Linked DNA regions of Homo sapiens. The protein of the gene in region 1 purifies or fractionates together with the protein of each later gene. This does not show direct contact. Each region holds a gene or a part of one and is shown in the gene's direction. Other genes may lie near its edges. The genes, in order: FGF13, KNOP1, YTHDC2, ZNF184, DDX31, NMNAT1 and ZNF624.

The links.
Region 2: the proteins of FGF13 (region 1) and KNOP1 purify together in Homo sapiens (affinity purification with mass spectrometry; one large-scale study listed by BioGRID and IntAct). This does not show direct contact.
Region 3: the proteins of FGF13 (region 1) and YTHDC2 purify together in Homo sapiens (affinity purification with mass spectrometry; one large-scale study listed by BioGRID and IntAct). This does not show direct contact.
Region 4: the proteins of FGF13 (region 1) and ZNF184 purify together in Homo sapiens (affinity purification with mass spectrometry; one large-scale study listed by BioGRID and IntAct). This does not show direct contact.
Region 5: the proteins of FGF13 (region 1) and DDX31 purify together in Homo sapiens (affinity purification with mass spectrometry; one large-scale study listed by BioGRID and IntAct). This does not show direct contact.
Region 6: the proteins of FGF13 (region 1) and NMNAT1 purify together in Homo sapiens (affinity purification with mass spectrometry; one large-scale study listed by BioGRID and IntAct). This does not show direct contact.
Region 7: the proteins of FGF13 (region 1) and ZNF624 purify together in Homo sapiens (affinity purification with mass spectrometry; one large-scale study listed by BioGRID and IntAct). This does not show direct contact.

The regions. Positions count from the first base shown.
Region 1 is NC_000023.11:138,613,713-138,618,269, reverse strand, and holds the end of FGF13 (fibroblast growth factor 13), read left to right. Parts: 3' UTR 1-3,543; downstream 3,544-4,557. UniProt on the Homo sapiens protein: Microtubule-binding protein which directly binds tubulin and is involved in both polymerization and stabilization of microtubules.
Region 2 is NC_000016.10:19,711,728-19,716,244, reverse strand, and holds part of KNOP1 (lysine-rich nucleolar protein 1), read left to right. Parts: intron 1-1,207; coding exon of another isoform or gene 1,208-1,209; coding exon 1,210-2,127; intron 2,128-4,517.
Region 3 is NC_000005.10:113,551,070-113,555,635, forward strand, and holds part of YTHDC2 (3'-5' RNA helicase YTHDC2), read left to right. Parts: intron 1-2,111; coding exon 2,112-2,290; intron 2,291-2,520; coding exon 2,521-2,617; intron 2,618-2,697; coding exon 2,698-2,785; intron 2,786-2,872; coding exon 2,873-2,953; exon of another isoform or gene 2,954-2,963; intron 2,964-4,566. UniProt on the Homo sapiens protein: 3'-5' RNA helicase that plays a key role in the male and female germline by promoting transition from mitotic to meiotic divisions in stem cells.
Region 4 is NC_000006.12:27,455,838-27,460,403, reverse strand, and holds part of ZNF184 (zinc finger protein 184), read left to right. Parts: intron 1-2,994; coding exon 2,995-3,121; intron 3,122-3,482; coding exon 3,483-3,578; intron 3,579-4,566. UniProt on the Homo sapiens protein: May be involved in transcriptional regulation.
Region 5 is NC_000009.12:132,594,067-132,597,375, reverse strand, and holds part of DDX31 (ATP-dependent DNA helicase DDX31), read left to right. Parts: intron 1-953; coding exon of another isoform or gene 954-1,008; exon of another isoform or gene 1,009-2,233; intron 2,234-2,263; coding exon 2,264-2,510; 3' UTR 2,511-3,309. UniProt on the Homo sapiens protein: May have DNA helicase activity and RNA helicase activity. Probably have ssDNA and RNA dependent ATPase activity. Plays a role in ribosome biogenesis and TP53/p53 regulation through its interaction with NPM1.
Region 6 is NC_000001.11:9,970,223-9,974,788, forward strand, and holds part of NMNAT1 (nicotinamide/nicotinic acid mononucleotide adenylyltransferase 1), read left to right. Parts: intron 1-1,795; 5' UTR 1,796-1,851; coding exon 1,852-1,966; intron 1,967-4,566.
Region 7 is NC_000017.11:16,650,388-16,655,701, reverse strand, and holds the start of ZNF624 (zinc finger protein 624), read left to right. Parts: upstream 1-1,851; 5' UTR 1,852-1,938; exon of another isoform or gene 1,939-2,134; intron 2,135-5,314. UniProt on the Homo sapiens protein: May be involved in transcriptional regulation.

The DNA.
Region 1 (4,557 bases):
GTTCTGCTAGCTTGAGAGACGGTTGACATAAGTAGTGAAACTATTTTCTGGTTCTTTTCAATGTGCCTATTCTCGTAATTGTTTTGCTCCATCTGTGAGCTGGACTACCAGACTCCCACAAAGGTACTCTCATACTTGAGTGGTTGTCAAAATTGTAGATAGTGGGGAAATGACAGGAGAAAATTCCTGTTCTGCCATCTTGCTGACATCACCCCAATATCTAAAATGCATATTTTAATTATTTTTTTCCTTGAATAAAGTTTATTTTGGAATTGTTGAGTTTTACAAAATAATTTAAAATATTCTCTCTCTCTCTCTCTCTCTCTGGGGTTGAGGTCTCACTCTGTCACCCAGGATGGATTACAGTGGCACAATCGCAGCTCACTGCAGCCTCGAATTTCTTGGGTCAAGTGATCCTCCCACTTCAGCCTCCCAAGTAGCTGGGACTACAAGGCGTGTGCCACCATGCCCAGCTAATATTTTTACATTTTTTGTAGAGATGGGGTCTCACTATGTTGCCCAGGTGGGTCTTGAACTCCTGGCATCATGTGGTCCTCCCACCTCCACCTCCCAAGTCCTGAGGATACCAATTGTGAGTCACTGTGCCCAGCTATCCCCTTCTCACTCTCTTTTTCTCTCACACACATGTGTGCATGCACAGACACACACACCTCATGTTCATTCTCTTTACCATGATGATCCTTGGTTCTTTTACACAGCTTCTTTCAGTTTACCTTACAATTTAGCTCAACACAAATTTTAAAAAACTTATAGTTACAATTTAATTTGGCTTGGTCCACACCTCTAACAAATTTGATACAATCTCCAACTTACGGTTGCAAGTTAGTTGATTATATTCACTTCCAAGTATTTCCCCCAACATTTCATTATGAAAATATATCCATCAATTAATGCTCTTATCTATAAAATAATTATTTTTTTGCATTTCAAAATAAGTTACAGACATCAATGCACTTCATCTTTAAACCCTTTATCATGCATATCAGGAAGTAGAGTTTAATATTTCTATATTTCTTGGGGGAGAAATGGAGCTAAAATTATATACTGTATCATATACAAACCTGTTAGGTATATCAATTCATGTGTATTGACAAATGCGTGCACCATGTAACAGAAACTCCTTTCAAGATATAGAATATTCCTATCACTACAAATATTAATCACCAAAACAATGGGGAGAATGTCTCTAGGGCATGTCAGAGACCTTCACTGCAGCCTCTCCCATTATAGGCCAGGAGGCCTTGAAGGAAAAAAATGGTTTAGTGGGCCAGGCCTCAGGCACCCCCCCTTGCTCTTTGCAGCCTTGAAACATGGTACCCTGCGTCCCCAGCTGCTTCAGCTTCAGCTGTGGCTAAAAGGGGCCAACATACAGCTCAGGCCATTGTTTCAGAGAGTGCAATCCCCAAGCTTTGGCAGCTTACACATGGTGTTGGGCTTGCAGGAGCACAGAAGTCAAGAATTGAGGTTTGGGAACCTCTGCCTAGATTTCAGAGGATGTATGGAAATGCCTGGATGTCCAGACAGAAGTCTGCTGCAGGGGTAGAGCTCTCAGGGAGAACCTCTGCTAGGGCAGTGCAGAAGGGAAATGTGGGGTTGGAGCTCCCCCACAGAGTCTTCACTGGGGCACTGTATAGTGGAGCTCTGAGAAGAGGGCCATAGTCCTCCAGACCCCAGAATGGTAGATCCACCAATAGCTTGCACCATGCACCTGGAAAAGCCACTGGCACTCAACACCAGCCCATGAAAAGAGCTGTGAGGGTGGCTGCATCCTGCAAAGCCACAGGGGAAGAGCTGCCCAAGGCTGTGGGAGCCCACCCCTTGCATCATTGTGACCTGGATAGATGTGAGACATGGAGCCTAAGGAGATCATTTTGGAACTTTAAGCTTTAACGACTGCCCTATTGGATTTTGGACTTGCATGGGCCTATAGCCCCTTTGTTTTGGCCAACTTCTCCCATTTGGAATGGGTATTTTTACTCAATTCCTGTACCCCCATTGTATCTTGGAAATAACTAACTTGCTTTAGATTTTACAGGCTTATAGGTGGAAGGGACTTGCTTTGTCTCAGATGAGACTTTGGACTTGGACTTCTGGGTTAATGTTTGAATGAGTTAATACTTTGGGGGACTATTGGAAGGGCATGATTGTGTTTTGAAATGTGAGAACATGAGATTTGGGAGGAACTAGGGTCAGAATGATATGGTTTGGTTTTGTGTTCCCACCCAAATCTCTCCTTGAATTGTAATAATCCCCATGTGTCAGGGGTGGGACCAGGTGGAGGACTGAATCATGGGGGTGGTTTCCCTCATGCTATTCTCATGATAGTGATTTATAACAGATCCAATGGTTTTATAAGCATCTGGCATTTCCCCTGCTGGCACTCATTCTCTCTCCTGCCACCCTGTGAAGAGGGGCCTTCCACCATGATTGTAAGTCTCCTGAGGCCTCCGAAGCCATGCGGAACTGTGAGTCAGTTAAAACTCTTTCCTTTATAAATTACCTAGTCTTGGGTATTTCTTTATGGAAGCATGAGAATGAACTAATGCACAGGGTAAAAATTTAAAAACAAACATACAAATGCAAGTAAACAAGCCAATATTTCAACTGTTCCCATTGCATTATCCTTATTCTTTATCTATGGTACCAGAAAATAATACATCTGAAACAATTTTTTTTTCCTGCCATGATGTACACTCAAGTGGGTCCACTGGGGTTTCTTTCAGTTTCCCAAATACTAGATATGACTCTTCCCTATACCTTATCTTCATATGAAGAAAGCTATGAGAATATATTAATAACTGAATATAGTAACACTACTATAGGAATAAGCATGTGTATATTCCAACTGATCTTTTAAAACTTTTATTTTGAAATATTTATAGATTCAAAGGAAGATGCAAAGAGTATAGGGAAGTGCTATATGCCCTTTATCTAGTTCCTCTAGTGGTATCAACTTACATAACTGCAGTATCATATATAAACCAAGAAATTGGCATCTGTATAATCCACAGACATTACTCAGACTTCTCTAGTTTTACATACACTAATTTGTATGTGTGTGTGTGTGTGCGTGCACGTTTATGTGTGTAGGTCTATGCAATTTTACCACATGTGTATATTTGGGTAACCACTACAATGATCAAGATATGGAACTGTTCCGTCACCACTAAGATCCCTTGTGCTATTCCTTTATAAACATCTCCCTGTCATCCTTTTTCACCCATAAAAGCTAGTAAACACTAATCTGTTCTTCATCCTTATAATTTTATTATTTCAGAATTGTTATATAAATGTCATCATACAGTATATAACACATAGAGATTGGCTTTTGTCACTCAGCACAATTCCCTTGAGATGCATCCAAACTGTTGTGTATATCAGTAATGCAATATGTTTAATTTCTGTGTAGTATTCCATGGTAGAGATGTGCCATAGTTTAACTATTCACCTGTTGAACAACATTTGTGTTCTTTCTACTTTTGGGCTATTACAAATAAAGTTGCTATGAACATTCATGTATAAGATTTTGTGTGATCATTGGCTTTCATTGCTCTAAGACAAATTAATAAGCATTTCTGAGTTATATAATAATCACATATTCAGTTCTGTAATATATTGCCAAACTTTTTTAAAGTAGCTATATTTTTCATGTGTTTATTTTCGATACATATATCCTATTTTACAAAATGATTGTTGATGAATTTTCTCTATATTCTATTGGATGTTTTAAGAAATTTTCATTGAGTTTTCAGAGTTTGCTATATAGTCCAGTTATGAATCCTTTGTCAGATGTGTAGTTTGCATATTTTCTTCCTGTGGTTAATTACTAAAATTGCAGTGTAAGAACTTCTGAAAACCCTTTCATCCATAAAAGCAATAAGAACACAGGTGAAAATTCTAAATTAACTTGTTCATAACTCTGGAAATTAACTAAAAACTTGTAAGAATTTGAGAAGTCTTTATTTTAGAAAATTTGCTGGATATTGGCAAGAACAGTGAAATCTGTGGCATTTTAACTTACCATATTTCCATATTCTTTTACTCAGCTCTGCAATATTCTCAAAAGCCAAGTGCCCTGCAATTATAGTGGCATAAAAACAGCAGTCTGGCAGCCATCAAAAGTGGAAGAATGCCATTAAGGGTGTCTGCCAGCTCTATCCCTACAGAATGTCATCAGGGACCTGTTCTCTAAATATCCCAACCTGTAGAACTTGTCTTTGTTTCACCTGATTCAACCTCATTCAGTGTGAACAGGCTTTTGTTGAAATCAATCCGTGGCAGTTGTTCCACACTGCAGCTGCTTGAGATGTCAACTACAGTTAGGGCAAACACAAAGTTGACTAGAAAAACTTAAAAGGAAAAGCTAAGGAATGAGATGTCCATAGGAGGATTTTAAAAGTTTCAATATATTCTTGGGAATTTTAGAAGGCTGCATGTATGGGCAGGGCTGTGTACATACCTAGGGAAGACTTGAGAAGGCCCTAATTTCTTATATGTGTCTAATCTAATATATGTCCAATCATTAGCTGGCCACTA
Region 2 (4,517 bases), on another chromosome or scaffold:
GTGAGTATGTATTGAGCACCTGCTATGTGCCAGGCACTGAGCAGGACACTGGAAATAAACCAGGAAACAGGGCAGACAGCAATGAATGAGTATAGTTATTCCCTTGACTCTCCAGGTGCGCCTGGAGTGGGTTATGAATGAACTTGACCTGTAGCTCAGGCCTGGCTCTTTGAAGCTGCTAAGAGAGAGCCAGCTCCAGTGTGGACCCTCTGAGTTCCGAAGCTGAGGAGGGCTGCAGGATGGAGAAGTTTTTCCTTTCCCTCCCATGATCCTAACTTGCTATGAAATATTTTGGGATATTTTGCTTCTAGATTCTGGGAATGTCTAGTGCAGGAACTTGGCTGGGGACTGGAGTGAGAGCAGTGGTCCAGCTGGACACTGATGGGTATTGAGGACCCCAGCCCATTCTCACAGGTGCTTCCACGATATCTGTCCAAGACAAGCTGGGTGCCCTCAGTACTGTGCATCATTGTGACTCATTCAGTGTTGGCAATCAACTTCAAATTTTAAAAACAGTGGAACTAGGCCAGGCAAGGTGGCTCATGCGTGTAATCCCAGCACTTTGGGAGGCTGAGGCGGGCGGATCACTTGAGGTCAGGAGTTTGAGACTAGCCTGGCCAACATGGAGAAACCCCGTCCCTCCTAAAAAAGAAAAAAAAAATTAGCTGGGCATGATCACGGGTGCCTGTTATCCCAGCTACTCAGGGGAGGCTGAGGCAGGAGAATCACTTGAACCCAGGAGACGGAGGTTGCAGTGGGCCGAGATCACGCCACTGCATTCCAGCTTGGGTGACAGAGCAAGACTCTGTCTCAAAAAAAAAAAAAAAAAAAGAGAAAAAGAAAAAGGGAATTAACAGTGTACCAAGCCCTTTCCATGGGTTATCTCATTTACTCCCTCCAACACCCTTTTGAGGAGGGAGGTGTTATATTCCCCCATTTTCCAGATGGAGAAATTGAGGCTCAGGGAGGTTAGCTGATTTACTTAAGGTGAGAGAGGCATTTAGGTTTGAACCTAGGGCTGTGTGGATTTAAAATTTACGCTGTTTCTGTAGTATTTCTTTTTTTGCTTTAAAGGAATCATGTCCATTTTCCCTGTCCCACAACGCTTTGACCACCCACTCAAAGAAACATGGCTCTTGGCAATGCTTAGTAGAATTGAACACAGGATGGCTTGGTATGGGATAACTTGTACCATTTGTTTTTTCAGGAATGATCACCAAGACACACAAAGTAGACCTTGGGCTCCCAGAGAAGAAAAAGAAGAAGAAAGTGGTCAAAGAACCAGAGACTCGATACTCAGTTTTAAACAATGATGATTACTTTGCTGATGTTTCTCCTTTAAGAGCTACATCCCCCTCTAAGAGTGTGGCCCATGGGCAGGCACCTGAGATGCCTCTAGTGAAGAAAAAGAAGAAGAAAAAGAAGGGTGTCAGCACCCTTTGCGAGGAGCATGTAGAACCTGAGACCACGCTGCCTGCTAGACGGACAGAGAAGTCACCCAGCCTCAGGAAGCAGGTGTTTGGCCACTTGGAGTTCCTCAGTGGGGAAAAGAAAAATAAGAAGTCACCTCTAGCCATGTCCCATGCCTCTGGGGTGAAAACCTCCCCAGACCCTAGACAGGGTGAGGAGGAAACCAGAGTTGGCAAGAAGCTCAAAAAACACAAGAAGGAAAAAAAGGGGGCCCAGGACCCCACAGCCTTCTCGGTCCAGGACCCTTGGTTCTGTGAGGCCAGGGAGGCCAGGGATGTTGGGGACACTTGCTCAGTGGGGAAGAAGGATGAGGAACAGGCAGCCTTGGGGCAGAAACGGAAGCGGAAGAGCCCCAGAGAACACAATGGGAAGGTGAAGAAGAAAAAAAAAATCCACCAGGAGGGAGATGCCCTCCCAGGCCACTCCAAGCCCTCCAGGTCCATGGAGAGCAGCCCTAGGAAAGGAAGTAAAAAGAAGCCAGTCAAAGTTGAGGCTCCGGAATACATCCCCATAAGTGATGACCCTAAGGCCTCCGCAAAGAAAAAGATGAAGTCCAAAAAGAAGGTAGAGCAGCCAGTCATCGAGGAGCCAGCTCTGAAAAGGAAGAAAAAGAAGAAGAGGAAAGAGAGTGGGGTAGCAGGAGACCCTTGGAAGGAGGTAGTTTTTCCTTCAGAAATGGACTTTGCCGTGGGAGAATTAAGGGTGGGGTTTGGGAGGGGTGTGTAGGCGTGTGTGCATGTTTGTACATGCACGAGTACTCATGCTTTTAGCTAAAACCCTGGTTAAATTAATTTCAGCCAGAATAGGGAGTTTATTGATATATGCAATTGGAAAGGTTATGGTTAACTAGCTTCAGGTATGGCTGGATCTAGGGGCTCATGCAGTATCATCGATAATTGCAGGTATCCTTTGCTACTGAAACCACCCAAGTTTTCCCTGTCTGCCGTTGGGGTCTGAATTAACTGGGATCAATTTTTCAGATGAATCCCTTGCTTTCTGAACTCTTGCCACTTGCTATCCAAAACTCAGGAACCAAGTAACATGAGATAACGTAGTGCCTGTAGCTATCTGAGTATCATCACAGCTCAGTATACACAATTTATACATCAAATAGATTTGGGTAGCCGGAGATGCCTGTATGAGATTTCCTCAGCTCTGGGCTTTGTATTTTTCTATCTTGGTTTATGGCCCATCCTCCTCCTCCACCTCCATCACATTGTGACCTGATGGTCCCGGCAGCTCTAGGCTTTCATCCCAGCAGTTCAGCCACCCCCAAAGGAAGAAGGGTGGCCCCTGTAAATCTATGACAGAAGTCTCAGGGCCACTATCGCAGGCCTCAGTTGGGTCAATCTATCCAGAAGCTCTAATCTAAAACCAAAGGTGGCCGGGTGCGGTGGCTCATGCTTGTAATCCCAGCACTTTGGGAGACCAAGGCAGGCAGATCACTTGAGGCCAGGAGTTCGAGACCAGCCTGGCCAACATGGTGAAACCCCATCTCTACTAAAAATACAGAAACTAGCTGGGCATGATGGCAGGCGCCTGTATTCCCAGCTACTCGTGAGGCTGAGGCACGAGAATTGCTTAAACCTGGGAGGTGGAGGTTGCAGTGGGCCGACATGCCACTGCACTCCAGCCTGGGTGACAGAGCGGGACTGTCTCAAAAAAAAAAAACTTGAGGTGAAGGACAGGGCGGGTATCAGTCCTAACTAAACCACACCGTCTGAGATGCGGGGAGGCAGTTTCTGAGAGGAAAACTGGAGTTCTGTTACCAGGAGGGAAGGAGTGGATGATGGCTTGGTGAAAACCACAGAGACCTGCTGTCTTCAGCCTGCCAGGCTGCCTGGAGTGGGAGAGGGAGGCCTGAGGTGAGCCGGAGGGCTGGTGGCTCCCCAGACCCACAGCCTTTCCCAGCTGAGCCCCTTCCAGGGCCAGGCCCCCATTCCTGTCCTCAGGTGTGTGCACGGACGTGTGGGCCGAAACGATGGTGTGTGTCTTGTTTCAGGGTGTGTGTCCTGCTCCAGACAGTGTCCGGCCCTTCCGTGTGGCCGGTGGCTGACATTTCTTGAGTGTTTACTGTATGCCCAGACTGCTTTGTATCAACCCATCTCATCCTCCTACCTGTCTGGTGAGGTAGCTGCTGTGGGCACCCCCATTTGACAGATCAGGAAACTGAGGCTCCAGAGACTTAATACCTTGTCTAAGGCCACACAGCTGGCAAGAGGTGGAGTTGGGATTCAAACTCAGCTAGTCTGGCTTCTGAAGTTGGCATTTATCCCTTCTCAGAAACCATCTATGTAACCTCTTGTAGAAGCCGGTATTAGTAGAGCCCCAGAAATGACCATCTTTCCATTAGCATAAACCCCAGATTCTCTTCCGAGCTCTGCACCAATCTGCTGGGTGACCTTGGACCACCCATTGCTCGGTTAGAGGGGGAGGGGAGTGGAGGGGTGGCCTCCATATCAAAGGCCTCCAGGTGTTAGCTTTGGTTGCTAGGATTTTCCCAGCTTTGCCCTAGTCCATTAGCCTTGGTTTTACCAGCATCTTCCTTTATTCAGAAACTTGGAGTTGGGAGGAACCCTAGAGGCTTGGGCCCAGCCGCCATCAGACTCTAGAATCCCTTCTCCCAGGAGCTCAGTGAAAGGGAGTTCCCTCTGCTTAACATCTGTGGGGGGACTCTACCTCCCACAGCAGCCCACCCAGTCCAGCAAATGCACATGTGTTGCAGGCCTGGATGAGTGATGGGAATGGAGAGGGCTTCCAGGGTCATCACACACGTGACGCTAGGTGCCAGGCACAGCACACTTCTCAAGTGAGGACGCATGAAATGTCAGCATTTGTCGTTACTGAAGAACCCCAAGAAAGTGGCCGGCCTGAGGTCTCGCTGTTGGAGGGTGTCTTCAGGGCCAAGGCGGGTGGGAGAGCATGGTGCATGTTAGTGTGGTCCTTGGCCTCTGTCCTGTAGTTTGGTGTCACCGTAGGAGGTAGGTGACGTGTGTAGTGGGAAAGGTCGGACACCAAGCCCTGGGTCAGGAGATGTGGGTTAGAAT
Region 3 (4,566 bases), on another chromosome or scaffold:
TAATTTTATAGATGTAAAATTGGAAATGTAGTCTCAGACATTTGAAATTAGTTGTGACATTGAGTCTCAAAATTCTTGGTAGGTTTAAATGCTATTTCTGATATGGTAGGTTTAGTTGTCATTTCAATAGTAGCACCCAGAACTTGCAGTCCTTTTATTGTTAACACTTTGAATGTTCCAGACATTCTTATGGTGTTAAGTAAAGCTCACTAGATACTGCAGGTTACCAGGTAAAGCGTTTATCTGGATAATATTTTAATTATCCTGGCTAACTGGGCTTTCTTTTTATTTGATAGATCATATTATCAATTATAAATTTCAGGTATTTAAAATTGAATATATTATTATGTTTACTGGATTATTGATAATTTATATCCAAAAGTTATAGCTTTAAACAGAATATAATGTCTTCTTCATTTATGTGTTAAAAATTAAAAAACAATAAACTTACAGTGTTTTAAAGTAGATCTTAAAATTTATAAGAGCTGAGAACACATGGACACAGGGAGGGGAACATCACACACCAGGGCCTCTTGAGGGGTTCCGGGATAGGGGAGGGATAGCATTAGGAGAAATACCTAATGTAAATGAAGGGTTGATGGGTGCAGCAAACTACCATGGCACGTGTATACCTATGTAACAAACCTGCATGTTGTGCACATGTATCCCAGAACTTAAAGTATAATAAAACATTTACAAGAGCCAATTATTAAGTTGTAGAAGTTTAATATTTTTCCCATTGAAAATAGTCTTACGTTATTTTTCTGCTAAATTCTTTAAGAGAGATTGGATTTATTTGAACTTCCTAGAAATTCTGTTGATAATTGCTAGTGATAGCAGTAGTTTACATTTTTACATATAAGATGAAGAAGCAAGGCATTTATTTCAGTAATTTATGTTGATTCTTGCTTTTGGAAAATAGCATAATCAACTTGCTTTTAGTATAGAATTTTCTAATTAACAGTCATGTTAAGTTGGTACCTACTGAGTTTTTTAAAAATGTGAACTATACATCAGAATATTGTTTATAGTAGTAAACAATTAGATACAACCTATTAAGAAAATATAAATGATAGCTGAAAGTTTGTGGTTTTTAACAGTTTTATTGAGATATAATTAATATACCATATAATTCACCCATTTAGGTGACCAATTCAATGGTTTTTCATATGTTCACAGACTTATGCAATCATCACCACAATCAATTTTAGAACAGTTTCATCACCACAAAAAGAAACTTGTACCCATTAGGTGTCTCTCCCTATTCCGCCCCAACTCTCCTAGGCCTCCTCCAGCTTTAGACCAACCACTAATCTACTTCCAGTTTCTATAGATTTGTCTATTTTGGACATTTTATATAAATGAAATCATGTGATATGTGGTTTTTGTGATTGGCTTTTTTCAGTTAGCATAAAATATCCATGTTGTAGCACTATTTTTATGACTAATACATATTCTATGGATATACCAAGGTTTGTTTGTATATTTGTCAATTGATGAACACTTAGGTTGTTTCCACTTTCTGACTATGAATAATACTGGTATGAATATTTGTGTACAGATTTTTATGTGGATATATTTTTTTCATTTCTCTTATATATACACCTAGGAGTGGAATTGCTGGGGCATATGGTAACTCTATGTTTAACCTTTTGAAGAACTGCCACATTGTTTTCCAAAGCAGCTTTACCATTTTACATTTCCACCAGCAATGCATGAGGGTTTAAATTTCTCCACACCCTCTCCAACACTTGTTATTGTCTGTCTTTTTGATTGTAGTCATCCTAGTTGGTGTGAAGTGGTATTTCATTGTGGTTTTGATTTGCATTTCCCTGATAGCTAATGATGTTGAACATCTTTTCATGTGCTTATAGGCCATTTGTATATTTACTTTGGAGAAATGCCTTCAGATTGTGCTTTTCTAAAAGCATTCATTGCCAAATTTTACTTTGAATAATGTGCTTGAAATCAAAACATGAATCATATTATAGCTAGGACATTAAGTGTCACTTACCTTACCTTCCTTAGGGAATATTGGAAATTTGAAGGACATAAGGATTACTTTTGTTAATGGAAATTGACTTTGTCTTTTTTTTTTTTTTTTTTTTCAGTGCTACACTGGAATTTGGAAATCTAGATGAAAGTTCTCTGGTTCAAACAAATGGAAGTGACCTCAGTGCTGAAGACAGAGAGCTCCTGAAAGCTTATCATCATAGTTTCGATGATGAAAAAGTAGACTTGGATTTGATCATGCATCTTCTATACAATATCTGCCATAGTTGTGATGCTGGTAAATACGTGTTGTCTAAAAGAACTGGAGCAAAATATATACTTTAAGAATTAATATTTTAAGTGTACAAATTTTTATATAATTGCACTGATAGTAGTAAGTGAATAATCTCCTGTCATCTTATGATAGTTTACCAGTACTTGAAAACATGTGATACAGATTTTTATAATTCTGTTGATTGCCTCTGATTCACAATGAGATTTAATATTAAAAAGTCATTCTTCTCCAAGGTGCAGTACTAATTTTTCTGCCTGGATATGACGAAATTGTTGGACTGAGAGATCGCATCCTGTTTGATGACAAGCGGTTTGCTGACAGTACACATAGGTAAGGGCTAAAGCCTTATATCTGTTGCTTAAAATAACGGACAGGTCTTATAGTATGTTTTCTCTTTCAATTGTCTGCAGATACCAAGTCTTTATGCTTCATTCAAATATGCAAACATCCGATCAAAAGAAAGTATTAAAAAACCCACCTGCAGGTGTTCGAAAAATAGTAAGCTTCATAAAATCTTCTTTTTAACACTTTCATTAGTTATTTTTTCTGTTTTTTTATTAACTTTAAAGTAATATCTTGTTGCAGATTCTTTCCACCAATATTGCTGAAACCAGCATCACAGTCAATGATGTTGTCTTTGTTATTGATTCTGGTAAGGTGAAAGAGGTATGTATGGGTAAGTTGTAGTTTTACTTAAATGAAGAAGATTAAGTTCTACTTCAACAAATACTTTTATTTATTATTTAGTTGTTTTTCTTTTAATTTTACCTCTACTCAAGACAGCTTGGACCAGCGCATGCTTTTATAAGCAGAATTTACGAAAAATGTCTGGTTCTAGATAAATTTAACATACTAAATATTGATTTTACTAAATATTCTGCCTTAAATAATTCAGTATATAGAATCAATTTTTGTTATTTTAACAAAGTATACAAAAATGTAGCTCTGCTCACCAAATACTAGGAAGAAAGTAAAGGGTTTGGTTAGTTATAGTGAAAATGTTGTCACACAGTATGGGAATTTGATTACATATTTTTTATGTTTTCCTTCTACATATGCACATGGATTATGTCTTTGTTCACTGTTAAATCTTTAGTGCCTCACCTATAGCAGGTGTTCAAAAGATACTCAGTTCAAGAGAACCATGCTGAAAGAAAGCAAAGAAATAGATAAACCATGGGATAACCAGCAGCTAAATTGGACTTAACACTTGCTTTTGTAAAAAAAAAGTTTCATTGGAACTCAGCTAGTCTACTTTTACCTTTTCTCTATGGTTGCTGCCTTCATACTGCAAGGCAGATTGGAGTATTTGTAACAGAGACCCTCTCAAAGCCTAAAATATTTACTATTTGAAAGTCCTTTTCAAAAACAGCCAACCTTTGTTATAAAAAAAAAAAAGCCATTTATTTCCTTTTAGTACTGGAATGCCCAGCAGTTGTCCATGTTCCTAACTTTTGGTAGATAACATTCGCTGAAAAAATGAAAGTGGTAAAGATAATTGATTTTTCAAGGGAAGACATATTACTCATGTGTGGAAAGCAAATTATATCTATTTAGTGGATAAAAATGATCGTTTTTAATGTGAAAAAAGTAATTGCCTTATGTTTTCAATGTAATTTTAAGGAATATTTTATAGAAAATAAAATTTTATTATAAAAATTGGCCATATGCTTTATAATTGAATAAAGGTGGGATAAATTTTATTTTTATATAATAGTACATTAATGAGTATTATCACTAAAAATCTTAATGGTGAGCCAATGAAAATTCAGATTTTATTGCCCTAAAATTACCTAAAGTGGATAAAGTGGGTTTTGAATATTTTAGAAAGTTCCTTTAGGTGTTACTTATTTATTAAGTAACTGAAATTTAAAACATGGGTAGTGTCAAAAGTTATTTAACATACAAAATTGACAAATGTAATGTCATATTAAAAACCAAATAAGCTGTTTTCTAAAAATTTTATAAACTATTATGCAAACATTTTTATTTGCTCTATGCAGTTATTTTATGAAAGGGAAAGTATAAGTACCGAGTGACTGAAATACATGTTCTAGTTAGGCTTGTATTTCTTTAAAATATTTCTCTACAATAAATTTTCACTGTAGGTTATTTGAATAAGTATGTGGATAACAATGGTTCTTTTTTACTTTCTTCATTGTAACGTTCGGGAAAGGCTAACTTTGTTAGTAGCTCAGCAGGAAGTAAAGTGGAAGTGGTTAAAAATATTTCTCTTTGGGATAAGATTATTGATTGTTATTCTTACTCCACAAGGTTAG
Region 4 (4,566 bases), on another chromosome or scaffold:
AAGAGCTAGTCCAGTTGCTTTGTCATGGTTAGAGGGAAAAGTCCTAATGATTTAATATATTTATAGTTTTTAAACAAAGTTATTGCTCTCTCACTTAGTTTTAAATACATAGCAATAAAAAAAGCAGGAAGTTGCCTGCATTGCCTATAGGTCCCACTACCCAGTCCCACCAATAGTATTTGGTTGAGTATTCTTTTAGATTTTTTTCTGTTCATTTACATATAAACGTTCTTCCTATTCATAAAAAGAAAAGTAGGATTATACCCTAGAGTTCAGTGGTATGATCATAGGTCACTGCAACCTCGAACTTCTGGGTGGAAGCAATCCTCCCACCTCAGCTTCCTGAGGAGCTGGGACTACAGGTGCGTGCCACCACGCCCAGCTTATTTCTATTTTTATCTTTAGTGCCGATGAGGTCTCACTGTGTTGCGCAGGCTGGTCTTGAACTCTTGGGCTCAAGCAGTCCTCCCACCTTGGCCTCCCACAGTGTTGAGATTGCAGGTGTGAGCCACCATGCCTGTCCTCTTGTGTACATATTTTCTAATGAGTACGTATAGATATACATCATTTGATAACTATCTATATAAAGTGTTTTAGTATGGGTGTACTATATATTTTTTAACCACTATCCTATTAATGGGCATGTAAGTTTGATTTTTTTTCCTTCCACACAAATGATGTTGAAATGGCAATTGTACATATGTCTTTGTACCTAGAAGTGTTTCTGAATAATAAATTCCTAGAAGTAGGAAGACCAGATCAAATGGTGTATCCATTAAAGTTTTGATAGATCTTGTCAGATTGCCCCCCAGATAGATTGCATTTGGGTTCTGTTTCCACCATAGGACACATGAGCACTTTAGCAGTGTTACCCAGTCTGATATTTTACTGTTTAACTATATTTTTAGGGGAGGGGAGCATCTTTTCATGGTTTCACATTTTCCTCGGTGACTTGCCTATTTGGGTTGTTGGCCTTTATTGTTGCTATTGTTGTGGGTAGTTGATCTTTTTTTTTTCCCTTAATTTTTAGTTGACATGTAATAATTGTACATATCCATGGGATACAGAGTGATATTTTGGTACGTGAATACAATGTGTAATGATAAAATCAGGATAATTAGCATATCCATCACCTTGAACATTTATCACTTCTTTGTGTTGTGAATATTCCGAATCCTCTCTTCTACTTTCTTGTAATTATACACTAAATTATTGTTAACCATATTCACGCTATAGTGCTATAGACACTGGAACTTATTCCTTCCATCTACCTGTAACTTTGTAACTGTTAGCCAGTCTTTCCCTAGCCTTCCCTCCTCTACCCTTCCCAGCCTCTAGTAAGCACAATTCTACTCTCTATGAGCTCGTTTTGTTTTTGTTTGCTCCTACATGTGAATGAGAACATGCGATATTTATCTTTCTGTGCCTGGCATATTTCACTTAACATAATGTCCTGCAGGTACATCCATGTTACCACTAATGACAAGATTTTATTCTTTTTTAAAATGGCTGAATGGTATTCCCTTGTGTATATATACCACATTTTCTTTATCCATTCGTCTGTTGATGGACATTTAGGTTGATTCTATATCTTAGCTGTTGTCAGTAAAGCCATAGCAAACATGGGGATGCATGTGTCTCTTTGGTATACTGATTTCCTTCACTTTGGATAAATACCCATTAGCGGGATTGCTGGATCATATGGTAGTTCCATATTTAGTTTTTTTGAGACAGTGCCAAACTGTTTTCCATAATGGTTGTACTAATTTACATTCCCACCAGTGTTGTATCCTTGCCAGCATTTGTTATTTTTTTTTTTGTCTTTTTGACTAACTGGGGTGAGATGATATCTTATTATGGTTTTGATTTGCATTTAGTGATATTGAGCATTTTTTCATATATTTGGGTGTTTATATGTCTTCTTTTGAGAAATGCCTATTCAGATACTTCACCCACTTTTTAATGGTATTATTTATTTTTTTGCTGTTGATTTGAGTATATTCTGGATATTAGTCCCTTGTGAGATGAATAGTTTGCAAATATTTTTGCCCCTTCTGCAGGTTGTCTTGAACTCTGTAGATTGTTTTTTTTTTTTTTTTTTTTTTTTTACTGTGCAGAAGCTTTTTAAATTGCCTTTTGTTTATGATGTCTTATAGATGTTTTACATTGTTATGTGGTTATATCTATCGATCTCTCTCTCCATCATGTAAATTTTGCCTTCCAGATTTCAAGCTTATACAAATATTTTCCTGTTTTTTATTCTATTTTATTTTGACTTTTTCTTTACGATTTCATCTTTAGGTTGGCAGGAATTTTTGTGTGTGTTGTGAAGTAAGGATCTCACCTTAATTTTTTTTTCATAGACAGTCGTTTGTTATGGCATGATTTAGTGACTAATCCATCTTAACTAATTTCACTTTTAACTTACTTTTAATTTAACTAACTTTTAACCAATTTGAAAGCTGCTTAATGCCTTTTAACTCTTATAAATATGAATCTGTTTCTGGATTTTCTATTTTATTTCATTTTGTTTTATTCCAGACTAGGCCATTTTTAAATTACTTTATCTTTTGAAATGTATTAGGGCAAGTCTTTCCACCTCTCTTTTTCAAAAAACCTTTGGGTGCTCTTGCACATTGTAGGTAGTAAAAAATATTGATGATAATAGTTAAACCATTAATACTTAGCGGACCTTGGAACACAGAGATGATGATGGTAATGATGACGATGAAGGACAACAACAATGGCCATATTGACTGAGCACTTATTATATGCCAGACGTTAAATTAAGCATTTCACATGGAATGTTTTATTTAATTCTCACAATAACCCAATGGATGAGGCACTGTTTTTACATTTATTTCATAAAGGAGAAAATGTCAAGATTATTTTGCAGACATCCTATAGACTGCCTTACTTCTGTCAGTATTGCTAACTTTACCCCTTTCCTAAGTAAATGCTTATGGCTAAGCAGAAATATGTTTGGTATTTCAGGAAGCGGTGACTTTCAAGGATGTGATAGTGGACTTTACCCAGGAAGAATGGAAACAGCTGGACCCTGGCCAGAGAGATTTGTTCAGGGATGTGACATTGGAAAATTATACACACCTGGTCTCTATAGGTAAGGATAATTTCTCTGAGTTAATATCAAGGGGTGTGCAGGAGGAGGGTTCTCTCTTGTGCTCAGGGGAGTTTGCCTTTAAGTTTAGTAACCAACCATTTCTAAATTTCTAGTTTTTGAAAAGGTTTCTACCATCCTAGCAAGCAGAGGGACAAAATAATAATTTTCCTGAACCCCGATCAGTTCCCAAATTATACTCCCACCATGTCTGGGAACTGGTAACACTAAAGCTTGATATGCTATCCACTCCCATCAGGTTTTTACTACATATCATTTCTTCTAAAGACAAAGTGGTGATTGAATTCTGATATGGTACTTTCCCCTTACTGCAGGTTTCTTTCTTTTTTTCCCTAATGAACAGGACTCCAAGTTTCTAAACCTGATGTGATTTCCCAGTTAGAGCAAGGGACAGAGCCATGGATCATGGAGCCAAGCATTCCAGTAGGTACCTGTGCAGGTAAGTCATGGATGCCAGCAGATGAATATCATTAACTCCGACTGTCAGCCTGATAAGAGAGGATTTTATGTCTGAAGTGTAGATGTACTTTCTTCCCTTTAAAGTATTTCCTGTGGAGAAATGGGAAAACATCTGTTTTCTGGACTTTCTTATGCTTTGTTATGTCACTAATTGTTGCAATATATATTCTATGTTATGCCCCTTTTTGAGGAGATGTCCTTCCTACCTTTCTATGAAATCCACCTCTCGAACTGGACTCTGAATTACATCTCTTTCTACTTCCTTTAGGACCATGATCTCATAATTATCACCGTACTTTTCAGTCCTTACAATTTTTTATTTTGGATCTACGGGCTCCATTCCCAGTACTTTTAAATAGAAATACATAACCTATATTTCCAAATAGATTTACTCCACAATATGAATCTTTATGGCCACCATTCAGTTTATCTTTTCTTTCCCAAGCAAACTCAACAAAAATGAATTCCATAACTGCAGGCTTCGTTTCTTTATCACCTAATTCTTACCTAGTAACATGTATAGCTTCTGATTTTTTTTTTCTTTTTTTGAAACAAAGTCTCATTCTGTTGCCCAGGCTGTAGTGCAGTGGCGTAATCTTGGCTCACTGCAGCTTCTGCTTCCCAGGCTTGAGTAATCCTCCCACCTCAGTCTCCCGAGTAGCTGGAACTACAGGTGCACGCCACCATGCCTGGCTAATTTTTGTATTTTTAGTGGAGACACGGTTTCGCCATGTTGCCCAGGCTGGTCTTGAACTCCTGGGCTCAAGTGATCTACCCGCCTCAGCGTCTCAAAGTGCTGCAATTACAGGTGTGAGCCACTGCACCTAGCTAGCTTCTGATTTTATCACTTCATCATACAGTTTTTGAAATTATGAATAACTTTCTTCTAAATCATCAGTTTCCAAACTGCATGAAGTAACCTAAGGATCTGACCCTGGAAAAACAAACAAACCTAGTCATTCTAGGTA
Region 5 (3,309 bases), on another chromosome or scaffold:
AAACTACAGGCACAGGAACTGGCAGCCTTCAGTTTGGAACAAGTTGAGTGCGCCCAACCGCAGGCCCTGTCTCCCGCCACTTCCCAACCACAGGTCAGCCCCCAGCAGCTTGGACCTCCTCCAGGGACACTGGTGCACATGGTCCGCACTGGGCGGGTGACCCATGATGAGACTCGCTGCTCTTAGGGAAGTGGTGGATGCTCTCAGAAGAGCCCCAGCCCAGCTGTCAGGGGCCGTAGCACCAGTCCTGGCTCCTGTGTGGCTCTGGGGGAGGTGCGTGGCATCTCCAGACCTCAGTTTCCTAATGTTTAACTGTGACTGCGATCCACATGCCAACCACCAGCTACCCCCTTATATGTCTTGATTTTTTCTAATCCTCACACCTGAGTGCCATTCTCAGTGAGGAAACTGAGGCACAGAGCCTGAGTCACTCATTCTGTGTCCTCAGCTGATGAGTGATAGTCAAGTTCCAACCCTGGCTTCTCCCTCCTCCACCCTGCAGCTCTGCTGTCTCCCCTCACCACTCCCTACTCACTTGCCTGGCTCCTGCCCCACTGTCCTGCTGAAGTAGTCCTTAGGAGACCACAGAGGACCCCTCCCATCACATCTCACCATTTTCCACCCTTGGTCCAGCTGAGTCCTGCCCCCGCTGACCCGGCAAATCGTTCTCTGCCCTGAGTTTGCCTCTTGGCTTCTCCACTTACCAGCCATGTGGTCCTGGGGCAGGTTACCCTCCTTGAGTCTTTGTGTCCTTGTCTGTAAATGAGGATAATAACCGTACCCACCTTGTTGAGCGAGGATTGTAAGAGATTGTGTATGTGAATCATTTCCCACAGACCCCAGGAAGTCTTCCCTGTATACTTCTAATCTTCTCACTACATCCTGCCCTGATGTGCTCACCCCATAAACTCCTGGCCTTTAAATGTTATCTGTTCATTGTCCCCTTGTTTCAGATCTTCTTTTCCTGCAGAGGTTGGCTTGAATGTGTCTTCCTGTATGTTGCAATAGAAAACACCATTGTATGACTGTCACCCTGTCCTCTGGAGTGTGATTAGAAACAGGTATTATTGCTTTAGCTCGTTTATAATGGGTTTCTACAAGCTTTCACAGTCAGGTTAACAACACACTATTAGTCTTATTTCTAATTCTTGGGTTTTAAAGGCATTGTTACATTTATTTTGACCACAGTTTCAGTTCAGTTTATTCTCTGATTACAGCAAAGAAAATGCTCTAAATGTAGTAGCAGAACGTAACATATGTCTTTGTGAGAACTCCATGACACTATAGTATCCTAAGACATTGCCGTTTTGGTATTGAAGGAGTTGCCAGCAAGGAAGTGTGGATTTATTGGTAATTGTTTTATTGTTGTTGCTTTGGTTAAAATCCTGTCTTAAGAAACATTGTTTTACTCTTCAGTTTTCATAATCATTCTTCTTATGTATGATTGAACATCTACAAATTTCCTCCTCTGATCTTCCGATCAAATGGTAAAATTGCCATCTTTTCAGAACAGTTATCAGGATTCGACATCGGAAATTGATTTTCAACCTTTGGCATTTTCTGAGTGACTTAGGGTAGGGAGAGACCTCCCTCTAACACCCGGGTTTGTGTGGGCTGCAGAAAGCTGCTGGTCTAATCCTAGATGCAGACATTGACCAGGCTGTGCCCTGGGTTTGGGTTTTGTAGGGTCAGAAATATGTTTAAGAGTTTTTTCCGTTCATAAAGAGCTATCTGGCTGTCATCCCAGCCTTCACTGTGGAACCCTGGAGGGCTGCGTGGAACTTGCTGGACTCTGCTCCCGCAGGGCTGAGTCCTGAAGCCCTCAGGAGCCCATGAGGAGGCCAGTTGCTTTAAGCTGCTTAGGGGTTACTGGGAAGCTGCCGTGAGCTTTCACTGCTTCATGTTGTTGAGTGTGACGGTGGGTTTTTCCCTGTCCTTTGGCAAACCGCTGTATCATACACCTCATTTGCCATCAGAGCATGAGGGTGTATAGTTCTTTTTTTCCCCATGAAAACAACACAGAACAAAGCCTCACTTTTAAAAATGCCATGATATTTTGCCGCTGTTATGAAAATCTGTCAGCGCCGTATCTAATCTTCTGGTGCATCGAATATCAAAACAAGTACTATTGAAGGGATTGTACTTCTGTTAATACAAAAATGTCAGCTTCACAGTCTCAGAACCAGCTGCTATCAGCCTCTTTCCAAATGGGAAAGAAAAATAATAAAGTTTCTTTTCCCTCTCTGCTGTTACTGTTCTTCAGGCCTGACCTTCATAAGAAGACCCAGAGTAAACACAGCCTCGCTGAAATCCTACGTTCGGAATACTCAAGCGGCATGGAGGCCGACATCGCCAAGGTCAAAAAGCAAAACGCACCTGGAGAGCCTGGTGGCCGGCCCCTGCAGCACAGTCTGCAGCCGACACCCTGCTTTGGCCGTGGGAAAACATTAAAATGGAGAAAAACCCAAAAAGGTGTACAGCGGGACAGCAAGACTTCCCAGAAAGTTTAAAATCTCTCTGGGTCTTCGAGTGGAACCTGGAAGCCCCGGGTGGCAGTGGATTGATGTCCAGTTCTTGTCAGAGGAGGCTTGTGAAAAATAACTGCGCCTTTGCCTGAATACCACGTCCCCAAGAATCAGAGGGGCCACAGCCCTTCTCCTCCATGGGAGGCCCTGGAGCCTGATAGAAATCAGTGGTGTGGGGCACTGTAGAGACTAGCCAGCTCCCGACGGAAGGGGTCTGTGTCTTGTATTGATCCCATCAGTGCCCGGCACTCCCTTCACCCAGGTGCTGACGTGCCGGGGTTGAGCTGGCACCCCGGGATGTGATGTAAGAACGCCCTGCGCGTCAGCCTGGAACGGGCTTGATTGCTGCCCTTAACTGTGTTCTGAAGTTTCACAGCTTGGCTTCAGCCTATCAGCGCATACATTGGCATGAATTTTGTGAATTAGGGTGTTAAAAACTGGAATTGAATTTGTACAAAAAGAGAATATATTTATCACTAATTATTTTCTTAATGTAGGAATGTACCGTTAAAAAGGACCAAAAGTTTTTGGTCTGGGTCAAAAAATACGAATGTGTTCTCAGGCTCGTGGTCCCTCTTATTTTCTTCTGGAAACACGAGGTTGCATTTACATGCATTGCTCCCTCTTTCATGTCCACTGAAAACTCACTCTCTCAGGGCTAATTGATTTACTGTTGGCTTTTTATTATTTGCCTTTGAAGTCAAAAGGCACCAGTATCCCAAGCTTTTTTTCCCTATCGAATCCTGTCTTGTCTTCAAGAAAGGTCTGGGGGTCTTTGTATTGT
Region 6 (4,566 bases), on another chromosome or scaffold:
GCATTATAAGCACATAATGTAGAGTTATGGTAGAAACTACCAGAAGAAATAGCTGAAAAAGTTAAAAGTGGTTGGATGGAAGGGATGATGAGTGGAATATGATTGATGGCTGTTGGTTTTCATTAAGGGCCTTTTTTACCCTGTGATGTTCTAGATCTATATATATGAATTAGTTGAATAAGAAATTTTAGGCCAGGCGCAGTGGCTCACGCCTGTAATCCCAGCACTTTGGGAAGCTGAGGCAGGCGGATCACAAGGTCAGGAGATGAAGACCATCTAACATGATGAAACCCCGTCTCTACTAAAAATACAAAAAATTAGGCAGGTGTGGTGGCAGGCACCTGTAATCCCAGCTACTCGGGAGGCTGAGGCAGAAGAATGGTGTGAACCTGGGAGGCGGAGCTTGCAGTGAGCTGAGATCGCGCCAATGCACTCCAGCCTGGGCAACAGAGTGAGACTCCCGTCTCAAAAAAAAAAAAAAGAAATTTTAATAAAAACCTAAAATTGGATGCCTTATGTTACTTCATTAGGGTTATGGAAGGATCAGTGGAATAACTGATATGAAAAAGAGGTTTGTAAATTATATTCTATTATTTAGTGGAAAGTTATGATGTTACTATCATGTTGACTAAAAGGCAAAAATGCTGTATTTGGTAGATGATAATATTGTTGTATTAATTAACTGTGGCCACAATAGTGCAATCACAAAACTTGAGTGACATATGATAATGAACACTAATTTTTTGTTTTTGAGACTAGGGTCAGCTTGTTGGCTTGACGATCTGAGCCAGGTTTGGTTGATCTCACTTGGGTTTGCTTATGTGTCTGAGCAGATGGACTGTAGTTGGCTGGTCGGGGATGGCTATGTTCCCCACATGTGGGGTGGTTGTCTATCAGTGGGAGCATCGGTGCTCTCCCACATGTTCTGGCATCCTCCACACTAACACTTGTGCCACATTCTTTTGCCCAAAGCAAGTCAAAAAATGTGGAGAAGTCACTTCCATCTCTTCATGGTAGAAGTTGCAGATTCACATTGAAAAGGAGGGATGGAGATGTGGAAACATTTTTAGAGTTAGCATAATGATTGAAGCCAATTTTTTTTTTCTTTTTGAGATGGAGTCTCTCTCTGTCGCCAGGCTGGAGTGCAGTGGCACAGTCTCGGCTCACTGCAACCTCCGCCTCCTGGGTTCAAGTGATTCTCCTGCCTCAGCCTCCCAAGTAGCTGGGATTACAGGTGCCTGTCACCACACCCAGCTAATTTTTGTATTTTTTGTAAAGACGAGGTTTTACCATGTTGGCCAGGATGGTCTTGATCTCTTGACCTCATGATCCACCCGCCCCAGCCTCCCAAAGTGCTGGGATTACATGTGTGAGCCACCACGCCCAGCCAAAGCCAAATACTTTTAATCCATCTATTGGGAATGAGAATGTGGAAGGACATCAAAAGACCTATAACTGGGCTGGGCGTGGTGACTCATGCTTGTAATCCCAGCACTTTGAGAGACTGAGGTGGAAGGGTTGCTTGAGACCAGTAGTCTGAGAGCAGCCTGGGCAACATAGCAAGACCCCCATCTCTACAAAAATTAGTCTTTAAAATAATTAGCCAGCCTATTGGTATGTGCCTGTGTTCCCAGCTACTTGAGAGGCTGAGGTGGGAGCATCACTTGAGCCCAGAAGTTTGAGGGTGCAGTCAGCTGTGGTTGCATCACTACACTCTAGCCAGGGTGGCAGAGCAAGACCTTATCTTAGGGAAAAAAAAATGCATAACTGAATTTATTTTCTTTTTCCTTTGTAGACAACAAGGGAGGTGTCACAGTTTTCCATTTAGATCAACAACTTCAAGTTCTTACCATGGAAAATTCCGAGAAGACTGAAGTGGTTCTCCTTGCTTGTGGTTCATTCAATCCCATCACCAACATGCACCTCAGGTTGTTTGAGCTGGCCAAGGACTACATGAATGGAACAGGTAGGAGCAGTAACCAAAAGTGGCTTAAGACTAGAGAACCAGCCGGGTGCAGTGGCTCACACCTGCAATCCCAGCATTTTGGGAGGCTGAGACGGGCAGATCACAAGGTCAAGAGATCGAGACCATCCTAGCCAACATGGTAAAACCCTGTCTCTACTAAAAAATACGAAAATTCACTGTGCCTGTAGTCCTAGCTACTCGGGAGGCTGAGGCAGTAGAATCGCTTGAACCCGGGAGGCGGAGGTTGCAGTGAGCTGAGATTGCTGCACTGCACTCCAGCCTGGAGACAGAGCAAGACACCATCTCAAAAAAAAAAAAAAATACTAGAGAACCGGCATGACTGGGTCTGTTTCAGAATACACATTTCATTGACTGGGCACAAACATGCTGTCCTGCTCCCTTGTACAGTGAATTCTTAGCCAAAAAAGAGGGTGAAGTATGAGGGAAGAATTGAGCATCTGGCTATGGCCTGTAGAATAGAAAATACAGCCAGGTACAGTGGCTCACACCTGTAATCCCAGTGCTTTGGGAGGCCGAGGTGGGAGGATCACTTGAGGCCAGGAGTTTGAGACCAACCTGGGAAACAGAGAGAGACCTCATCTCTACAAAAAAAATTGTAAACATTAGCCAGGTATGGTGGCATGTGCCTGTGGTCCCAGCTACTCAGGAGACTGAAGTAGGAGGATTGCTTGAGCCCGGGAGGTCTAGGCTACCGTGAGCCATGATTGCACCTTTGCCCACCAGCCTGGACATCAGAGCAAGACCCTGACCACCCCTCCCCAAAAAAAGGAATTTGATTCTGTCATGCCTGTGCTTAATCTTCTTTAGGAGTTTCCCATTACTTAAGGCAAAAAGCGAAAGCTTGTACTTTAGCATACATAAAACCTCTAGGATCAGGCACAGCTTTTTAAAAGTTTTCTTTTTTCTTTCTTTCTTTCTTTTTTTTGAGATGGACTTCACTCTTGTTGCCCAGGCTGGAGTGCAGTGGCGCGATCTCGGCTCACTGCAACCTCCACCTCCTGGGTTCAAGCAATTCTCCTGCCTCACCCTCCTGAGTAGCTGGGATTACAGGAATGTGCCACCACGCCCGGCTAATTTTTTATATTTTTAGTAGCGACGGGGTTTCTCCATGTTGGTCAGGCTGGTCTCAAACTCCCAACCTCAGGCTTCCCAAAGTGCTGGGATCACAGGCATGAGCTACCATACCCAGCTAAAAGTTTTCATAAACAATGCATGAGGCTGGGCGTGGTGGCTTACTCCTGGAATCCCAGCACTTTGGGAGGCCAAGGCAGGCAGATCACAAGGTCAGGAGATTGAGACCATCCTGGCTAACACGGTGAAACCCCATCTCTACTAAAAATACAAAAAAATTAGCCGGGCATGGTGGCGGGTGCCTGTAGTCCCAGCTACTTGGGAGGCTGAGGCAGGAGGATGGCGTGAACCTGGGAGGCGGAGCTTGCAGTGAGCCAAGATGTCGCCACTGCACTCCAGCCTGGGTGACAGAGCGAGACTCCATCTCAAAAAAAAAAAAAAAAAAAAAAAAATGCATGAATAGGCTGGGCGTGGTGGCACATACCTGTAATCCCAGCACTTCGAGAGGCAGAAGGGGCAGATTACCTGAGGTCAGGAGTTTGAGATCAGCCTGGCCAATGTGGCGAAACCTTGACTCTACAGAGTCTCGCTCTGTCGCCCAGGCTGGAGTGCAGTGGCACAGTCTTGGCTCACTGCAACCTCCACCTCCTGGATTCAAGCGATTCTTTTGCCTCAGCCTCCCCTGTAACTGGGATTACAGGCACACAGCACCATGCCCGGCCCATTTTTGTATTTTTAGTAGAAATGGGGTTTCACCATGTTGACCAGGCTGCTCTTGAACTCCTGTTCTCAAGTGATCCTCCCACGTCGGCCTCCCAAAGTGCTGGAATTACAGGCATGAGCCACCATAACATAGCATAACCATAACAGTTTCATGTGTATCCTTCCACTCTTCTTTGTATGAATTTATATGCAAACATTTGTGTGTATACACAGATTTTTTTTTTTTTTTGTGGAAATGGTTCTCACTCTGTCACCCTGGCTGGGCAGGCTGGAGTACAGTGGCATGATCACAGCTCACTGCAGCCTTTACCTCCCGGACTCAAGTGAGCTGCCTGCCTCAGGCTCCTGAGTAGCTGTGACTACAGGCATGCCACCACATCTGGCTAATTTTTTTTTTTTTTTGGAGACAGAGTCTTGCTCTGTCGCTCAGGCTGGAGTGCAGTGGCATGATCTCAGCTCACTGCAAACTCCGCCTCCCAGGCTCACACCATTCTCCTGCCTCAGCCTCCGGAGTAGCTGGGATTACAGGTGCCCGCCACCATGCCTGGCTAATTTTTTGTATTTTTAGTAGAGACAGGGTTTCACCGTGTTAGCCAGGATGGTCTTGATCTCCTGACCTCGTGATCCACCCGCCTCGAACTCCCAAAGTGCTGGGATTACAGGAGTGAGCCACCGCGCCTGGCCTAATTTTTTAATTTTTTGTAGAAACTGGGTCCCACTGTTTTGCCCATGTTGGTGTTGAGCTCCTGGGCTCAAGTGATTCTCCTGCCTTGGTCTCCCAAAAC
Region 7 (5,314 bases), on another chromosome or scaffold:
ACTGATTCCTAAGTATTCCATAACACATTATGATGATACAAATCTATTCATTACCTGGCCCAATGGGAGGAAAAATAAATGTAATGAAAGGAATATTCATGTAAACACAAAATGCTTATGTGGAAGAGAGCTTGCAGGTCATGCAATCAAATTCCCAAGAGGACATTTAAAAATTCTAAGCAAGGATTCATCTAATCTCTGCCTGAACTTCTCCAAAGAATTCAAATTCATTATTGCACAAGGTAGCCTACTCTATTTTCTAAAGCTGTTCGTTGTTAGCATAAAGTTATACAATCTGAATCAAAATCTATCTTCAAGTAACTTTTAACCATTGGTTTATTATTTGAAGCCAAAAAGCATTAGTTTCTTCCTTCACAGAAGAGTTCTTTAAGAGTTTAAAAATTACTAAATATAAAATGCACACAAAATTGCCTATAACAAATATCACTACAAATTGAACAGTGTACTCCTACCAAAATTAAGAAATAAAACACTACCAATACCTTTGAAGTCACCTGTGTGTCTGTCTTTCCTGGACTTTATCCCTGTAGAAGTAATAATCTACCCTAAATATTGTGTTAAACATTTTTTTTTAATAGTTTAACGAAATGTGTATGTTTCTCTAAACTTTCCTGGTGGCTTATTTTACATTCTGTTGTTTGTTGATAATGTTTTTAATTCCATCTATCATGTCCTTAAACATTTTAAATGTAATAATTTTAAATTTTTAATCAAATGAGCTCTGCCTCTGAAGTTTTGGGGGATATATTTCTGCCGTTTATTGTTTGTGCTGATTTTCAGTCACAGTGTCTTATTTTATTATTTGTTTTGTAATGTTTAAGTTTTGGACTTCTGTTTGGCTCATCTTCATCTGTGGGGAATGTGAGGGAACTGGGATCTCCAAAAGACATTTGCTTAGTTTCTAATTTCAGAGTGTATTGAATAAATATTTTGAGTAATCTTTTTCACTGGAAATTTCGTTTTATTCCAGTCCTCCTGTGAATATCCTGTTGTTTTGATTACTCTTCAATGCCACTCTCCTTAGAAGATGTACCTCATTCCGTGTGCATTTCGATATGTGGAAGTGTGTTGGGAGGTGGGGTCCCAAATTATTCATTCATTCTTCCTTCGTTTCATTCAGTATGCAAGCAGTCTCCTAAGTAGGCACTCTGAGTGATAAACTCCATGAGATGTAGTTTCTATCCTCAAAAAATACCGCCTTTGGTAGGGATAAAGTAAATAGACCTTAATATAGCTCTTGGACGAGCAGCCCTTGAATAAGTGGTCAAATAAATTTGTTGCAAATAAATACTTTCAGTCATTGTGTTTTAAGAATTATCATTTGTATGCATTGAGGAGAACTTCTACAGCTATTTGTCTTCAGAAAGGTTTTTTCTTTGTATTTCGAAGAATTTTGGCCTTAAAATTTCCAGCTTATTTTCAGACATTCATATCCATTCTACTTAATTGGCATTATAGTCATCAATTGTTGTCTCTTCCAACTCTGAGGGAATTGTCATAAAGGGAATTGTTCAGAAATATGTGTTTCCAAGCACTTGTTCACATATTTGTCTGGATCACATCTATCTGTTCTCTCGACGGCTTTCTTTAGTCGCACCTAAATGTTCCAAGACAAGGGTTGTGTCATTATTTGTATCTCTAGTGCTATTGCTTTTGACACATAGTCAAGGCTTCTCAACAGAAGTGTATCCAATTGGAATTTTTTCTCACCCTCGAAGAGCCAATTCCTTCACTAACGCAGACAAAAGGGGCGGGGGGCTCAGGCGCTGAGGATTCTGGGCACTGTAGTTCCGACGCTCCGGCTGCGCAGGCGCAATGCCCTGCCTGGAGGCCGGCACCGCCGAGCCGCCGCCATTGCTGGAAGCGTTCCCGCCCTGCTCTGCGAGTTCCCTCAGTTGTCCTCAGTTCGGCCGCCAGGTACTCGTTGTCCCGGGCGCCTGGCCTCGGTTGCCCGCCGCCCCTCCCTTGGCGCTTGGCTCCCGGCGGCGTCCGGGGCGTGGCCGTTCCCTCTAGAGCCCCTGTCCCTGAGCGGACCCGCCCACTCCTGAGAGGCGATTGGGGCTGGGCCTCCTTCCCGAGTGTGGGTTCAGTCTCCAGCTGGCCTCCCTCACAGGTAGGGCCGCGTGCCCTATGCGGCCTCCTAGTCCGGGTCCAAACCCGGGAACCCCCTCCCTGCGGGCCTGGCGGCGCTGGGGTTAAAAAGAGCCGGGCGCAGGGCGCAGGGAGTCGAGTAGGGCGGGCGGGCCCCTGACCCGACTTTCCCGGTCTTCCCAGCCCCGCGCCTTGCAGGCCCTGAGGAGGGCATACCCGAAGTGGGTAGAGGAGAGCAGTTAGGGAAAGAAGGCGAGGTTGGCAGGAGCATATCCGCTCTGGCTTCTGAACTGGCAGGGATGGAACTAGGTTCCACATCGGGGGACCTGCGCTACTCAGTAACCGAGGCAGCTTTTCCTGAAATGTCACATTTCAAATACTGTAATCACCTTTTAATCACTTGTCACTCCCTGACATGACAATGGTATTATTGCATTGGTTGGGAAATGCTGGACTGGTACATGGCGCTGAGATTCTCAGCAAAAACATGGACCCTTCATTATTTCTAAATAACTGCACTGGCCAAGGAAGCAAAACAAGTAAAGTTTCTCCTTAAGTCTCTGGATACGTTTGCAATAGTTGGAAAGACAGAGCTTGTAAATAGGGAAATTATAACTGGGGAATAGTGGCCTAGATATCTTCTGCATAATGACAAAGGGGACAGTAGAAACATATAAGGTGGCTACTGTCATGTACTAATAGCTGATTCGTTGTGCTCAAGTGACTTGCCTGTGGTCACAGTTTTACGGTAGCCAAAGCAGGGTTAGAACCTGGGGATGTGGCCAGCCACTCTGGGATTTTATTCCTATTCCACACTCCTATGTATAGGTAGATACTTCTTCTTGTCTGCTTGGAGAGTACAGAAAAGCAGAAAGAAGGGTAAACATCACAGCCCCAGGTCTCAGAGGTCTCAGTAGAGTTTTGGGTTACTCAGTCTTTTTTTCTATGCATTACATTTGCACAATTGAGATCAAGCTGAATATATTAAATGTTAAATATTGTTTATTCTAATTATAAAATAAAACAAGGGATTTATTGTAGTTTGGTTGTTAAACATATGTTACGAGCATAATCTACATAATCTACATAAAGTATTGCCAAAGAGTTTATTAATATTTACAAATATTTTAAAAATGATGACTCAGCTCACTCTTGATAAATGTTAAAGATGCAGAAAACCATTACTCTAGACCTTCGGAATTGAAAATGCCTTATGTTGCTCTTTGTAGGTCTGCTTTAGTGTTCGGGGGTTGCGGGATGGGGCAATATTCTTGGCTCATTTTTTTTCTTTGCAACCTTGTAAAACTTGGGGGTCAGTGTATGGGCTTGGGAGGGAGAGTCAGTTTTCAAGCTCTCTGAAGTAATATGCAACATCATATATGCATGTGCATTATTTTGTGGACAAGGTCAGATTCTCAGATGGGTCCGTACCCCCCCAAAAATTAAGATTTACTGGTATGCATAGATTGTGTAGTGGTGAGATCAGGGCTTTCAGGGTATCTGTCCCTAGAATAACGTACATTATACCCATTAAGTAATTCCTTATTCTCCACCCCCCTCCCACTCCTTCACCCTTCAGAATCCCTATTGTGTAACAGGCAATATTTCTTAAAATATTACACTAAAACTAAAACATTATATAATTTAACATTATATAATTAACATGTTAACATTATATTAAACTAAATATTTCTTAAGGTGTACTTGTTCAAGCTGTATATTTCTGTGCCTCACATCTAGAGATCCTGATTTTGATCTTGGATGGGGCCAAATAATTTCCTTTTTAATAAGCATATCCAGTGAGTTTTTTGCATTCTCAGATTTGAGACCCCTCTAGTTATACATGTGGCGTTTTCATTAGAAAACAGGAGAGGAGTCATAATTTTCATTAGATTTGCAAAAGGCTCTATGACAGAAAAATCTAGAGAAACACTGGCATAAGGCAAAACCACTTACTGGTTACCTTGAGGCTTCAATACAGGAATCCCCTCAGACTATTCTTTCTTTACCTCTTTTATCTCCACACTGTACCGCTTTCCTCCCTCAACTTCTCATTGTTTCTCTTCCACCAAAACCTTTTCATTGTGCCTAGGAAAGCCCCAGTGTCATGAAACAGGTCACTCTACATTTTTAAGATACTCACTTTTTTTTTTTTTTTTTGAGATGGAGTCTCGCTGTGTCGCCCAGGCAGGAGTGCAGTGACACAATCTCTGCTCACTGCAACCTCCACCTCCCAAGTTCAAGCAATTCTAGTGCCTCAGCCTCCCGAGTAGCTGGGACTACAGGCGTGCACCACCACACCTGGCTGATCATTTTGTATTTTTTAGTAGAGTCAGGGTTTCACCGTGTCAGCCAGGCTGGTCTCAAACTCCTGACCTCAGGTGCTCTGCCCGCCTCGGCCTCCCAAAGTGCTGGGATTACAGGTATGAGCCACCATGCCCAGCCAAGATATTTACATATTTTCTTGATTTAACTAACCCTGGTCTCCTCCTTGAGTTAATACATTAATCTGACAGTATATGTTTCAGTATACCCATATCTAGTTAATTTTTATATCTCTAATATTCTTTGCATTCTTGATAACCTTGCTTTATATATTCTTGTTTTTCAGAGAATAATGGTTAAGTACTTCAAGTATCTTTTCAGATGAGCTTCTGATTGTTAGACACTGTAAGGTTAGATTAAGTTCTGCTATGTTTATTGAGCAAAGCTACTGAACGTTATGAGAAGCAAGGTGCACATTCAGGGAAGGAGCAGATTCCACATGTTTAAGCATAACAAAGGCCCTACTTGCAGGACCATATAATTGCTTATAACACTTTTTGTACAAAAACTTAATACTTATTATGTCACTGCCCTCATGAATAAAGATTCATGAGGCTAGTATTACCATCCTAGAAGAATTTATATTGACAATCTGTACTGTTTGATATCCTACATCAGGCACTCCTGGTTCTTGAACCAAACTCAGCCTCAGCAAGGCCATACATATCATTAGCCAAAGGTAGAAAAGCAGGGCCCAAGCATCCCTGGAAAAGATCTCTGCCACCCTGTTGCTCCATAGGATAAAACTTTTATTAGGTATATACTTTTTTTTCAATATAAAAAGACTATAGCTTAATGCTTTGTGCACTGAATTTCATGTCTCTTCTATTATTATTATTATTATTATTATTATACCTGCTTCCTTTTTGTTTAAGTT